Linked DNA regions of Homo sapiens. The protein of the gene in region 1 interacts with the protein of each later gene in a biochemical or structural test. Each region holds a gene or a part of one and is shown in the gene's direction. Other genes may lie near its edges.

Region 1 (3,500 bases):
TTTCCAAGGGGTGCTGCAGCCTGTGTTGGTCCTAAAGGTGGTCCTTTGTTTGTAGGTCAATGTGCGAAATGGAATGAGCTTGCATGACTGCCTTATGAAAGCACTCAAGGTGAGGGGCCTGCAACCAGAGTGCTGTGCAGTGTTCAGACTTCTCCACGAACACAAAGGGTAAGAGCTCAAAAGTCAATTGACTTCTTCAGACTAGTAAGGATCTTCTAGCTTCAAATAGCTATGTTTGTATTAAATTGTACTAGCTTCCTATAGAATATTGTATATTTCTATACCTTTCTTTATAAAGAGATAATTCAGAAAAATAGGTATTAAGAAATTGAAATTATTGCTTGGACATTCTCTTGAAAAGTTAAATACACGTTAAGCTGGGCCTGATGACCAATACCTGTAATTTTTTTTTCTTTTTGAGGTGGAGTCTTGCTCTGTCGCCCAGGCTGGAGTGCAGTGGCGCGATCTCGGCTCACCGCAAGCTCCGCCTCCCGGGTTCACGCCATTTTCCTGCCTCAGCCTCCGGAGTAGCTGGGACTACAGGCGCCCACCACCGCGCCCGGCTAATTTTTTGTATTTTTAGTAGAGACGGGGTTTCACCGTGTTAGCCAGGATGGTAATACCCGTAATTTTAACACTGGGAAACTGAGGCAAGAGGGTTGCTTGAGGCCAAGAGTTCAAGACCAGCCTGGGCACATAGCGAAGGCCCATCTCTACAAAAGATTTTTAAAAATTAGCCAGGCATGGTGGTGCGGCCCTGTAGTCCTAGCTGTTCGAAAGGCTGACGTGAGAATATTGCATGACCCCAGGGGCTTGAGGCTGCAGTGAGTCATGATTGTGCTACTGGACTCCAGCCTGGGCTGGAGCAAGATCCTGTCTATTAAAAAAAGCCAAAAAACAAAAAAACAAAAACAAACACATGTTAGGTATTGATAATGTTTCCATGGATGGAAACAGTGATGTTAGATGCTGTGTTTTTTTGAGACAAAGATTTTTCTTTGTGTTTACTCTAATGCATTATATAGACTGGGCACTCAGAAAGTGCATTATTTTATATAAAGAATGCTATCCTCGGGAGATTGACTTTTCTCATTCACTAATTTTTTTTTTTATTCAGTTAAATGTGTACTAATCCCTGCTGTTTGATAGATTGTTTAAAGATGCAGAAGCATTTCTGCTTCAGGGAAGATTCATGGTTTATCCTATTCCTAATGGTGGTGGCAAGATAGAGGCATCCCCTCAAAGGCTAGGAGTAATACCTCAAAGCAGCAGAGCTGTCCATAATTATCCATTATCCATTATTCCCTCCACCCCGAAAATATAGGGAAACCTTTAAAGGGTTCTTTTTTACCCTCTTCTTGGAAAGCGTCACTTATGTTATTCATCGTTAGCTTACATTTTTTCATGTTTCAAAGAGTTCTGCAGTTTGGGAGAATAGCCCAGGGAATGAATCTACTCGAAGGGGTGAGTGTAATTCTCAATTTAGGAGGCGTTTGTTGAAGTGCAAATCTTTGAAGCAGACGTTAACTTTTGCTGAAGGTAGCCCAGGTTGGGTCCCTAAGCCAATCCATAGTGTTCCTTAAGGACTAGAGAGATTCTGAGACAGGGAGGGCTTGGTCTACTCTCATCCAAGGCTGCACTGGTTTGGAGCTACTCTGGAGTCTCTAGGACAGACAGCAGATTGTCACTAGGATCAGTCTGCAGATTGATGAGAAAATAAGGCTTGTCCTCCTTCTCTTCATAAGGGCAAAATAGTCCTTTGGAGTTATAGGAAGTTTTCCAGGTGCTGTATAGGTAATTATATTAAGGAATGTATTGTTTACTGTTGGATAGTGAGAAAAATGGCTTGACTAGGCTTCTGGTAGATAATGGAGAGGCTTGAATGGTGCTATACATGTTATTTTCTCTTTACCTGAGAATATTCTTCCTTTGGAAAATGGGCCAGATTAACTGGATAAAACATAAGAAAGGAATTGGGCATTACTTTTTACTTATGTATCTATTTTTTGTCTTATTTATACTGTAGGCACAGAAAGTGTGGTTTCAGAGTAGATTTTAAGACAGTTAAGTTTCTCATTGACTTATAGACCCTACAACTACAGATTTGAGTCTGTTATTAATTAATAGAAAAGTACATTTTTCATTTGTGGTTCCTTTCTATTTATCTAGATTGAAATAGGCTACTGAAGACTAAATTTTGTACTGCAGCAATATTTATAATCCATTTTACAGGATTTGGGGATTTTTGTAAGATTTTAGTGTTACAAATTCCAATTTAACGTATATTGACTTTATTGTGAGATTTTATATATCATTGTTTAAAGAAAACTTTATTCTGGCCAGACATGGTGGTTCACACCTGTAATCCCAGCACTTTGGGAGGCTGAGGCAGGAGGACCGCTTGAGGCCAGGGATTCAAGACCAGCCTGGGCAACACAGCAAGACTCTCTCTCTACCAAAAAACATTTTTTTAAGTAAATAAAGAGAAAACTTTATTCTGAGAACATGGGCTTTGGAGTTCAACAGACCTAGATTCCAACATAGGCCCTTAAACTTGCTGTGTGGCCTTGAGCAAATTACCTTCTTAGAGTCCCAGTTTTCTTATTTTTCAGATAGAAATAATACCTACTTCATAGGTTTGTTGTATGAATTAAATAAATTATTGTTGTATGGATTAAATAAAGTTGTGTTTATATGGCATGTGATAAATGGTAGCTGTTGTTATTTCTATTGAACTTTGATCTTGTTTAAACATTTCATGTTTTTTTTAAATCCTTTCTAGTAAAAAAGCACGCTTAGATTGGAATACTGATGCTGCGTCTTTGATTGGAGAAGAACTTCAAGTAGATTTCCTGGATCATGTTCCCCTCACAACACACAACTTTGTAAGTTGCAGATCTCTTCTCTTTCTGGCATGTTGAGGGCTTTGCCAGGCATAACAGAGATTTCTCAGGTAATATGCGTATGTATATATATATATAGTTGGATTGTTTAAAGTTCTTTATGCTGTTGTTTACAGTAAGGCAATTTAGATTTCATTAGTCAGAGATATACTCTAATTTGTGATTATGAATTCTGTACATGCTGGAAGTATGATTCATTTTGTAAAAACTTTTTTGGAGGCCAAGAAATGAAGTTGTCTTTTGTCATCTTTTATTTATTCAGCATAATTTACACCTGTGTTCTTGTTGTAGGCTCGGAAGACGTTCCTGAAGCTTGCCTTCTGTGACATCTGTCAGAAATTCCTGCTCAATGGATTTCGATGTCAGACTTGTGGCTACAAATTTCATGAGCACTGTAGCACCAAAGTACCTACTATGTGTGTGGACTGGAGTAACATCAGACAACTCTTGTAAGGCATTGTTCTTTTATCCAAGGAAGATAGGGATGAGGAGTATACATACTTTAAAGGGTATTTGTTGTAGATTTTGACTGACAGGTCTGGATTCTAGACTCATTTAATGAATTGTGATCCAGAAACTACTTTAGAAACAGTGATA
Region 2 (4,136 bases), on another chromosome or scaffold:
AAGAAAAGGAAAATGGATGTGAGGCAGTCAAAATCAGCAGAGGTCCACCACACCACCAAAATGTGGTGATTAAATATGGAGAGACAGAGACTAACAGAGGTATGTGAATATTGAAGTATGTCTGGACAATAGCCCAATGATGAGACCAATAAAATGGTTACCAAAATCTGGTTTTGAGTAGTAGTGTTAAATCAGACCATTTAGTAACCATTTTTTGTTGCAAAGTTTCTAGCACTGCCCAAACCCTGAGTGGTATATGAATAACTCGTCCATTATGTATCTCTTTCCAGTCAGCATAATTTATCCCCCACCTATATTCTTTTCTGACCACTCCTACTTCCTTCTCTTTACCAAAATCTAAACTCTAAGGCTGTTTCTTCAGCAACTTCTTTGTTTAGATTGGAAGATAAATTAAACAGCATGCGATGTTTTACTGACTTTCAGTATTTAACAGAGGTGATTTAATTTTTTTTTAAATCCAAAGTCAAACTTCTTTATAAGATGAAGGAGAAAAATGTCTTATAAAATGCATATGTGAAGATGCCTTCTGAGTGCTTTCTCATGCAGACTTGTTCTAGTCTTTAATGAATCTTCCTTGTAGACACTGTGGAGATGAAAGATGGTTCTCCACTTCTACTCAAAGTACAAATCAGGCCGGCATTTTGAAAAAGAGACAGGTTTATTCATAGCTGCAGCGTTAGCTGGCTTTGTTCCCTGTACAATTTCACTTTTGGTTATTAAAATATTCACTGTAGGAAATAAATTTGTAACCCATTTCTCATATTACCTACACACAGAAAAACAAAATTTGATATCCTGGGGTTTATTTGCTGAGGGCGCTTCCCATAAAAGCGAGAGAGTGTGCGTTGGGAAATGTGTCTGGTTAACTCTTTTATGGATAAACTTTAGTCACAATCCTCCCCCGCCCCCCTCTCACCCCCAGCACCCTCCCAACCTCCCGACTTCCCGCCTCTCAAGGGCTGGTGACCTAATAGCATTTTTCTTCGTGCATATTTTGGCGTCGCCCCATGGCCTGGCTGCCTTCGCCTGTCTGAGTTTTTTGAAATTCCTGCATGTTCGCCCCAGATTAAGCCAGTGTGTCTCAGGATGTGTGTTCCGTTTTGTTCTTTCCCCTTAACGCTCCCTGTGCAACGTGTCTGGGGGGAGGAGGGCAGGGACGGGAGAGAGGGAGGGGCAGAGGCGAGGAGCTGTCCGCCTTGCACGTTTCCAATCGCATTACGTGAACAAATAGCTGAGGGGCGGCCGGGCCAGAACGGCTTGTGTAACTTTGCAAACGTGCCAGAAAGTTTAAAATCTCTCCTCCTTCCTTCACTCCAGACACTGCCCGCTCTCCGGGACTGCCGCGCCGCTCCCCGTTGCCTTCCAGGACTGAGAAAGGGGAAAGGGAAGGGTGCCACGTCCGAGCAGCCGCCTTGACTGGGGAAGGGTCTGAATCCCACCCTTGGCATTGCTTGGTGGAGACTGAGATACCCGTGCTCCGCTCGCCTCCTTGGTTGAAGATTTCTCCTTCCCTCACGTGATTTGAGCCCCGTTTTTATTTTCTGTGAGCCACGTCCTCCTCGAGCGGGGTCAATCTGGCAAAAGGAGTGATGCGCTTCGCCTGGACCGTGCTCCTGCTCGGGCCTTTGCAGCTCTGCGCGCTAGTGCACTGCGCCCCTCCCGCCGCCGGCCAACAGCAGCCCCCGCGCGAGCCGCCGGCGGCTCCGGGCGCCTGGCGCCAGCAGATCCAATGGGAGAACAACGGGCAGGTGTTCAGCTTGCTGAGCCTGGGCTCACAGTACCAGCCTCAGCGCCGCCGGGACCCGGGCGCCGCCGTCCCTGGTGCAGCCAACGCCTCCGCCCAGCAGCCCCGCACTCCGATCCTGCTGATCCGCGACAACCGCACCGCCGCGGCGCGAACGCGGACGGCCGGCTCATCTGGAGTCACCGCTGGCCGCCCCAGGCCCACCGCCCGTCACTGGTTCCAAGCTGGCTACTCGACATCTAGAGCCCGCGAAGCTGGCGCCTCGCGCGCGGAGAACCAGACAGCGCCGGGAGAAGTTCCTGCGCTCAGTAACCTGCGGCCGCCCAGCCGCGTGGACGGCATGGTGGGCGACGACCCTTACAACCCCTACAAGTACTCTGACGACAACCCTTATTACAACTACTACGATACTTATGAAAGGCCCAGACCTGGGGGCAGGTACCGGCCCGGATACGGCACTGGCTACTTCCAGTACGGTAAGTACCCCCAAGTCCGCTGGAAGCACCCGTGCACCTGGTCCCCAGCTATGTGGCTTCTCGACGTGGCTGCCTGGGCGCGGCGGGCCCCGGTCCTCGCAGATCCGATCCCTCCCCCACGCGCCTGCAGTGGCAGCCCTGGAATCCAGTGCAAACCGCGCGTCTGGCCCCTCCTGCTTCCTTTTCACATTGCTTTGCAGTCCCGGGCGTCCCCAGTTCTCTTGCTGTCCTCCGCTCCACTCTGCAGTCCCGGTGGGCGAAGGGTGAGGAGTAAGGGACCTAGAGGGGTAGGGAGTTGGAGCGGGGGGCGCCGGGTTGTTTCACTGCTGCGCCCGTCGCCTGCTGACGTTTAGGTCTCCCAGACCTGGTGGCCGACCCCTACTACATCCAGGCGTCCACGTACGTGCAGAAGATGTCCATGTACAACCTGAGATGCGCGGCGGAGGAAAACTGTCTGGCCAGGTACGGGCTGATATGTCTGAGGCCCCGCTCCCCGGTCTACCTTCAGGGGGCGCTCTGGTGCCTGGTTCTGACTGCTACTGCTTCGCGCAGACAAGTGTTAGGAAGTGGGACAAGAGCTGGGAAGTGGGACGTGACCTCCTGGGCATGCTGACCTGGACGGAGAGTTAATATTTTTGAAGATTTCTGTGGGTTCTGTCTCAAAGTGCAGCAGGAATCACAGAGGTGGAGGAAACCCTTATCCTGGAGACTGAAAGTCTCATGCTCTTTTTCCAAGATACTTAAACTTGGGAGTCAATTGTTCCAATCACTTTTCATAAAACAACTATACAGTAATTCAAAAAATTTATTGTAATGGAAGGGTGTGTTAATACCCCCTTAAAAGATTCGGGGCAAATTTGCCATCGTAGCCTCATTGGTAAAGACTAAGTTTTCCTCTTTTGTTTGAGACCACGATGAACTTGGTTGTTTTGGTATTACTTCAGCCAGAATAAGACCGTGAGCAAGAGCTTTGTTTTTCCACTATTCTAAAATAAAATAGTAACTCTGGGATTGGGGTTCTCTGGGTTTACTGCTGGGAAACAGCAGAGGGAGCAAAAGATGTTTTAATAAAAATTTAAAGTGTAAAATAAGGTCATCAATACCACCTGAACATATAGACACACTAAATATATTAGTAGGAACACAGTGATGTTTATTTGTACATTTCTTCCACTTTGACCCTTTATAATTGTCAGGCTAAAGGAAGTGAAGAAATCCAAGCTCATTTTCATTCCTGAGTCTTGCATCACTCACACCATTGAACTCCCTATGATGTTTTTACAGTACTGCCATTGTTTTGGGATAGTGAAGTTACAAAATTATTAATTTAAATCTGGGTATGCTCTTTTAGAGTTATTTCCTCAGTTTGCAGCTCATTAACTTTTTTAAAAGTTTTGTTAAGTTTGAAGTTTGTAATAAACATCTATGAATTATTTTTTTTATTGGGGGATTATTTCCACTTCAGTTTCACTCATTCATATGATCAAACTTGAATTGATTCTAAAGTTTACTTCTGACATTTAGATTTTTAATGCTTATTATGTTTTTACTGTTAAGATCTGTGGATTTCCATAGGTGTTATTCATTCACTTATTCACCAAATATTCATTGAGCTCTGACTACTCCAAGACGGTTCTAGGAGCTTTGGATTCAGCAATGAACAAAAAGAAACAAAATGCCTTAGACTCTTGGAACTGATAGTCTAGTTGGGAAAGGAGGATTGTCACTACTATATAATGGATGTTTTATTTGTAGTTTTGTCTTTAGTTAATATTCCATGAATATAATAATTTTTCTTTTTTCAAAATCACAGTACAGCATACAGGGCAGATGTCAGAGATTATGATCACAGGGTGCTGCTCAGATTTCCCCAAAGAGTGAAAAACCAAGGGACA
Region 3 (4,108 bases), on another chromosome or scaffold:
TGGCCATGCTCCATAGTGTCAGTCAGGGATCCATGTTATGGAAGCTCCATGAGTTGCCTTTTTTTTTCTTTTTTTTTGGGTGTGTGTGTGTATGTGTTGTGTGGTGTTTGTTTGTTTGTTTTTTGTAGAGACAGGGTCTTACTATGTCACCCAGGCTGCAGTGCTATGGTGCAATGACGCAATCTTGGCTCAATGCAACCTCCACCTCCTGGGCTCAAGCCATCCTCCCATCTCAGTTTCCTGAGTAGCTGGGACTACAGGTGCACATCACCACACCCAGCTATTTTTTTTTTTTTAATTTTTCTTAGAGATGGGATTTCACCATGTTGCCCAGGCTGGTGTTGAAGTCCTGGACTCAAGTGATCCACCCACCTGGGCCTCCCAGAGTGCTGGGATTACAGGCATGAGACACCACAGGCCTCCATCAGTTTTTGATGGCATTATCTGGCACATGCAGTTAAACAAGAATACAATAGACAACAGGGTACAGAAGTATGTGCATGACGTATAACATGTTTCAGTGCTGCTTTTTAATTGATTGTGTAAAAATGACCAAACTTTTCTTAGAGAAGCAGGGAAAAGTGGAAAAATTATGAAGGCATGAGAGTAACTCAATGAATGATTATAATTAAACAGCATCATCTGTTAACTTCCATGTTCTCACCTGCCTCAGTGGCTGGGTAACATGACACTGACACAGTTTTACCTCTATTACTCTCTGGAATCCATCCTCATCTGGTCTGTCTGGATTAGGAGCAGGAAGTGATAATTAATTGATGGACTCTTAAGATTTAATGACATTTTGAGAACATTTTTTTCAATGGGCTCACACTAAAGATCCTTTTATTTATAAAAATAATTTTTTTACCATTCACAATGTCAGCTGCTAATACTCATCTTGTCAGCCCAAATTTGTAGAGCTTTATAACTGAGTATCTTCCTCGTCAGACTGCATTTCAAGAAGCTAGGTCCCAAGTCTCTGGATCTTTATTTTCCTGGCTTAGGTCTTAAATATAAGATAAATTCGACTAATAATTATAGGACTGCATTGGAATTCTAAGTATTCAGGCAAGCTGTATAACTGTAATTCACATTCTTTTTATTCAAATATTCTTGCTTGAGTAAACCACAGTAAGAATAAGGAAGTAGTGACTGAGTGCCTTGCCAGTACAGCAGATGCTAGAACATAATGTAGCATTACTTTCCCCAGGGTTTATTGTTATGTAAGTTCTTGTTCAGCTTCCTTTGTTTTCTTTCACTTCTGAGAATTTAACTTTCGTTTCTCACTCAGCTCCTGTGGGGAAACTCATTTGTGGAGACCAGCCCTCTGGCTTGGTGAGTGAATCTGGTTTACACCGGCTCCTGCCCTGCCTTCACTCTTCTCCCCTGATTCAAGACTCCTCTGCTTTGGACTGAAGGTGAGTGGAGCAATCTGTGGGAGCATAGAATGGGAGGCTTTGAGAAGAATAGATTGATTGTGTCTGGGTGAGTTTAATTTGTAGTTCTGAAGCTGCTCTGCATAAACAAAAAGAGGCAGCTTGTGAACTGTCTGCTGAGATGGCAGAGGAAGAAAGCACTGAGTCTGGGAGAGGGGTAACCTTTAAAGAAGAGAGGTTTGCAAAAGCAAAAAGCCTTGCTTGTTTCCTAGAGGGACCATTCATTTCTTCAATCTAGGTACCTCCATCACCTTCCTTGTTGGAAATAAAGCTCAGAATCTTAAGGGAGACGAGCACTCAAACAAAGGATTTCTCAGCAAAGCAATTTTATTTCTGTGCAGAGGGGTGCTTCTTCTTTGCCAGTCGCCATGAGAGCACACTAGAACAAAGGAGGAAGAAAGTTTTTATTCCTGACGCAAATCCTACCCCTTTGCCCTTTCCCCATTGGCTGGAGTCGGCCACACAATCTAAACTAGACTCAGTTGGCTAAACATTTTAACTTTCTTTAGATAAGGTGGGCACGTGAGGGAGAGAGGGGAGATGGGGAAGGGGTGTGTGTGATGAGCTAGATAACTAATCTTCTTCCAAAATAAGGAAAGGAATGTGAGTTGGTACTGATAACGCCTGGTACTGTGACATGTCTAGGCATGTAGCAAAAGCAGAAAGGAAAGAGAAGAGAAGAAAAGTGAAGTGGGGAGGGGCACTGTGAATTAAAGAATAAAGGATTGATCAGGCTATTTGAAGAGAAACCTTATCATACCCCACATTCCTATTCTGTCATTTTGATTTTTCCATTTTGCCAACGTGGATCAGAATTTTCTTTTATTCAGAGGCAGCAAATTCCTTCCTCCTTTCTCCCGAAGAAGCCTGTGCAATGAAGCTTTGTTTTCACTTTTCATAAAGCAACCTCATGATGAGGTTCAGCAGGGATGAGAGCCCTTATCTGGATCTGGGTATGAGGCGAAGGAGTCTTAGGTACTCAGTCTTCAGAAGTAAGGCCCTTTTGAAGGTTATCCTTTTACTTGCCTTCTGGTAACTTTTTGGATGCTGTCCATAGCTTTCCTGATAAATTAGCAGCCCTCTGGTTAGTCCGAGGAGAGAGGCCGCAGGACGGGCAGACTGCTGCTCATCTCTGCAGCTCCACTTTGGTCTCTTGTCTCTGAAGGTCCAGTCACAGGGAACTTGTTCTTCTGAGTACCCACAGCTTACTCTTCCTTTGTAGCAGGACCAGCCACAGAAAAAACTCCTCAGACACCGAGGTAAAGAAGGAAGGGGTTTATTCGGCCAGGGGCATAGGCAAGACTCCTGTCTCAAGAGCCGAGCTCCTCGAGTGAGCAATTCCTGTCCCTTTTAAGGGCTCACAACTCTAAGGGGGTCCGCGTGAGAGGGTCGTGATCGATTGAGCAAGCAGGGGGTACGTGACTGGGGGCTGCATACACCGGTAATTAGATCGGAACAAAACAGAGTAGGGATTTTCACAGTGCTTTTCTATACAATGTCTGGAATCTATAGATAACAAACCAATTAGGTCAGGGGTCCATCTTTAACTACCAGGTCCAGGGTGTGGCCCCGGGCTGTCTGCTTGTGGATTTCATTTCTGCCTTTTAGTTTTTACTTTTTCTTTCTTTGGAGGCAGAAATTGGGCATAAGACAATATGAGAGGTGGTCTCCTCCCTCAACTTCTGTAGCACCCAATGAACCTCTGGTATCCACTCCTGTTTTAGAAGTTGCTATTATTCTAGGTACACCTTTTCATCATGAGTTACCTCAACTCCCTACTCAATTTTCCCTTGCACAGAGCTAAGGCAAGGAGTTGGTAATTTCTCCTGAGTCTTATCTCGATCTTATCGCTGAGCATTTTGTACCTTGATGCCTATGTCACCCATATTCTGATGTGTCCTTTTCTTTGTTTCACTTTTCAGAGGTCCAGGTAACTGTCTCCTTATGTGTCTGTACCGCACATCTTGTCAAGGTCCATATCTAGTATTTATTCATTGTCAAGTCTAGTACAGGACCCAATAAATAAAACTGTACTTTTAATTTTTGAAAAATATTTTTGACTAAATTCACAAAACAAAAGCATACAGGTATAGTAAAAAAACAAAAACAAAAACAAAAAAACTATCTATTCGATATATAATCAACATTAAATACCGGTAAGAGATTATGCTCTGGACTAGGGAAAAGGAAGTAAACACGCAGTCAAAAAAAGGAAGTAAACCAGCAGTTTTAATGTAGCAAAAAGGTAGCAGTTACTAGAGGATAAATGTAAAACCAATAAAACAAAAGCAACAAACTAAAAGGGCTGCAATAGGATGTGGTATCTGTAGTGCTCTTGTCAAGGGCTTTGCAACTTTAAATAGATTTCACATTAGGTCTCACTGTGAGACAATGATTTTGAGCAGTCTTCAATAAAATGATGGATTTAAGAACTGATGAACTAACTGTGAGAGAAAGAGATGACACTGGGGTAGCTTTATGAAATCTGTCCTCTGTTACAAAATGACTTATCTGAAACATATTGACCAGAGAGTTAGAACTCTTGGAAAAAGGGTCATTACTTGGGGAAAACTAAACCCTGGACATTTTAGTGGGTCATTGAAAAAGGAACTCTGAGTTTAGACAAATAAGAAGTGGTAACGGTGTTTCTGAGTTCTCCAGGTTTCTGCATG
Region 4 (3,500 bases), on another chromosome or scaffold:
TGTATGATATATATAATATAGTATATAATATATTACATGTATAATATATTATATATAATATATAATACAATATATGTAAAATATATATAATATATAACACAATATAATATGTAAAATATATTACATATATAATATATATATTTTTCAGACAGAGTCTAGCTCTGTCACCCAGGCTGGAGTGCAGTGGTGAGATCTTGGCTCACTGAACCTCCGCCTCCCAGGTTCAAGCGATTCTTCTGCCTCAGCCTCCCAAGTAGCTGGGACTACAGGTGTGCTACCACACCTGGCTTATTTTATTTTATGTATTTATTTATTTTTCTGAGACGGAGTCTTGCTCCTGACCTCATGTGATCTGCCCGCCTCGGCCTCCCAATGTGCTGGGATTCCAGGCATGAACCACCGTGCCTGGCCAGAGATATGTGTTTATTATAGAAAATTTATGAAATAGAATAATGACGATCATATTGTCTACAGGTTGTTTTAATCCCCCCCCCCCCTTCAACATTCTATAGTTAACATTTCTGTTTTTTTTTTTGAGACGGAGTCTCGCTCTGTCGCCCAGGCTGGAGTGCAGTGGTGCGATCTCAGCTCACTGCAACCTCCGCCTCCTGGGTTCATGCCATTCTCCTACCTCAGCCTCTCTAAGTAGCTGGGACTACAGGTGCCCGCCACCACGCCTGGCTAATGTTTTTGTATTTTTAGTAGAGACGGGGTTTCACCATGGTCTCCATCTCCTGACCTCGTGATTAGCCCGCCTCAGCCTCCCAAAGTGCTGGGATTACAAGTGTGAGCCACTGCGCCCAGCAGTCTTTTTTTTTTTTTTGGTTTGGTTTGGTTTTTTAGACAGAGTCTCACTCTGTCCCCCAGGCTGGAGTGCAGTGGCACAATCTCAGCTCACTGCATCTCCGCCTCCTGGGTTCAAGTGATTCTCCTGCCTGAGCCTCCTGAGTAGCTAGGATTATAGACATGTGCTACCACGCCCGGCTAATTTTTGTATTTTTAGTGGAGGCATGGTTTCCCCATGTTGGCCAGGCTAGTCTTGAACTCCTGACCTTGTGATCCGCCCGCCTTGGCCTCCCAAAGTATTGGGATTACAGGTGTGAGCCCCCGTACCTGGCCTTTTTTTTTTTTTTTTTTTGAGACGGAGTTTTGCTCATGTTGCCCAGGCTGGAGCGCATTGGTGCAATCTCAGCTCACTGCAACCTCTGCCTCCTGGGTTTAAGTGATTCTCCTGCCTCAGCCTCCCAAGTAGCTGGGATTACAGGCGCACGCACAACCATGCCCAGTTAATTTTTCTATTTTTAGTAGAGATAGTGTTTTACCATGTTGGCCAGGCTGGTCTCGAACTCCTGACCTCAGGTCATCCACCTGCCTTGGCCTCCCAAAGTCCTGGGATTACAGGCATGAGCCACTGCGCCCAGCCTGAAGTCTTTCAAAATACATTTTTTATTTATCCAGTGTATTATTTTATACTGCACTTTCTTCATCTGTAAAGTAACAGGGTCAGGCATGGTGACTCATACCTGTAAGCCCAGCACTTTGGGAGGCTGAGGTGGGAGGATTGTTTGAGACCAGCCTGGGCAACATCGTGAGACCCCGTCTCTACCAATAATAAAAAAATTAGCTGGATGTGATGGCACGCGCCTGTGAAGATCGCTTGAGCCCGGGAGGTCAAGGTGGCAGTGAGCCATGAGGGCACCACTGCATTCTAGCCTGAGTGACAAGAGTGAGGCCCTGTCTCAAAACAAACAAACAAGCAAACAAACAAACAAAAAACCCAGGGTGGCTGGGCTTAAGGACTAGTTGATTCCAACGATTCAAAACCCATTATAATAGTTTTTAAGCCTGATTATCTGAGATTTTGTCAAGGAAAAAAATTCCACATAACAATCCCAGGCCAGGCATGGTGGCTCATGCCTTTAATCCCAGCACTTTGGGAGGCCAAGTCAGGGAGATCCCTTGAGTCCAGGAGTTCAAGACCAGCCTGGGCAACATGGTAAAATGCTATCTCTACTAAAAATAGAAAAATTAACTGGGCATGGTTGTGCGTGCACCTGTAATCCCAGCTACTCTGGAGGCTGAGGTGGGAGGATCACTTGAGCCCAGGAGGTGGAGGTTGCAGTGAGTCAAGATCAGGGCACCCCATTCCAGCTTGGGGGACAGAGCAAGACCCTATCTCAAAAAACAAAAACAGGAATTTGAGGCCAAATTTATGGATTATATATTTTATCTGCTCTGTATGTGGTTAATAATAGGTTATCCTTTATATGATAAAAACATACTTATGTCCATTTTGCAGGACTTGGCATGGGCTTTTATTGTTTTAAATTGTGATACATTTGTAGCTCTGCTGTTTGATACATTTTGGGATTTGATTTTGGTATGATTTGGTACCCAGTCTTTGTTATGGATACATGTGATTCACCTTGTTATGATATAGTTTTATGTATTTTCGAGGATATGGGTCATAGTGAAAAGTCACGTTTACCTGTACAGACTGAGAATAGCTTGATCTCAGATGGTCAGATGTTGAACCAAGTGGATTAAAGCTGATTTCTTAAACCGGACAAGGCTGCTGCCATTGTGCATTCCCTGGTACTTATAAAATATTATGGTTTGAAATTTTATTCTTATTTCTGTAATCATCTTATTCACCTTAAATACAGAAATACAGACATCTGGCTGGGCGCAGTGGCTCACACCTGAAATCCCAGCACTTTGGGTGGCCGAGGCAGGTGGATCACTTGAGGTCAGGAGTTCAAGACCAGCCTGACCAACAGAGCAAAACCCCATCTCTACTAAAAAAATACAAAAAAAAAAAAAAAAAAAAAAGCTGGGTCATGCCTCTGCAATCCCAGCTACTTAGGAGGCTGAGGCAGGAAAATTACTTGAGCCTGGGAGGTGGAGGTTGCAGTGAGCTGAGATCATGCCACTGTACTCCAGCCTGGATGACAGAGTGAGACTCCATCTCAAAAATAAAGAAAAGAAAAAAAAAACACAGACATCTCAGCATATATTACCATGTGACTTAACCTTTCTATGGTTCTAGCTAATTTTTTAGGCCTTGAAAGGGAAGGAAGCCTAACATTTTCTGCTACCTCATTGGACTGTCCCTTCTGCCAGTAATCCTTGTAGTAATTTCCTTAGACCTATATTGGTCATAATCACTGGGTGCATGACCTTTGATGAGTAACAGTCAGAACTACTGTTTCCTCATATTTCAGATGAGGCCTATGATATATTATGTAGGTTAAATTAGATTCCATATATGAAAACATTCTAAATTGTAAAGCACATTACATATGTTAGTTATTATCAAAGGTAACATCGTGAAAGAAGAGAAGATGAGCTATAGAATCACACAAGCCCATGCTTAAATTTTGACCTTACATTAAACCAAAGAGGATTGATTTTTTTTTTTAATTGAGACGGAGTCTCGCTCTGTCGCTCAGGCTGGAGTGCAGTGGCGCAATCTCAGCTCACTGCAACCTCTGCCGCCC

Evidence for each region.
Region 2: the proteins of RAF1 (region 1) and LOX form a complex in vitro, tested with the Homo sapiens proteins (one study listed by BioGRID).
Region 3: of the proteins of RAF1 (region 1) and TRIM22, one has a biochemical effect on the other in vitro, tested with the Homo sapiens proteins (one study listed by BioGRID).
Region 4: the proteins of RAF1 (region 1) and XIAP form a complex in vitro, tested with the Homo sapiens proteins (one study listed by BioGRID).

The regions. Positions count from the first base shown.
Region 1 is NC_000003.12:12,608,618-12,612,117, reverse strand, and holds part of RAF1 (RAF proto-oncogene serine/threonine-protein kinase), read left to right. Parts: intron 1-55; coding exon 56-168; intron 169-2,782; coding exon 2,783-2,885; intron 2,886-3,194; coding exon 3,195-3,352; intron 3,353-3,500. UniProt on the Homo sapiens protein: Serine/threonine-protein kinase that acts as a regulatory link between the membrane-associated Ras GTPases and the MAPK/ERK cascade, and this critical regulatory link functions as a switch determining cell fate decisions including proliferation, differentiation, apoptosis, survival and oncogenic transformation.
Region 2 is NC_000005.10:122,075,460-122,079,595, reverse strand, and holds the start of LOX (protein-lysine 6-oxidase isoform 1 preproprotein), read left to right. Parts: upstream 1-1,336; 5' UTR 1,337-1,610; coding exon 1,611-2,241; exon of another isoform or gene 2,242-2,594; coding exon 2,595-2,703; exon of another isoform or gene 2,704-4,054; coding exon 4,055-4,136. UniProt on the Homo sapiens protein: Responsible for the post-translational oxidative deamination of peptidyl lysine residues in precursors to fibrous collagen and elastin. Regulator of Ras expression. May play a role in tumor suppression. Plays a role in the aortic wall architecture.
Region 3 is NC_000011.10:5,688,482-5,692,589, forward strand, and holds the start of TRIM22 (E3 ubiquitin-protein ligase TRIM22), read left to right. Parts: upstream 1-1,308; 5' UTR 1,309-1,418; intron 1,419-1,745; exon of another isoform or gene 1,746-1,815; intron 1,816-2,196; exon of another isoform or gene 2,197-4,108. UniProt on the Homo sapiens protein: Interferon-induced E3 ubiquitin ligase that plays important roles in innate and adaptive immunity.
Region 4 is NC_000023.11:123,866,553-123,870,052, forward strand, and holds part of XIAP (E3 ubiquitin-protein ligase XIAP), read left to right. Parts: intron 1-3,500.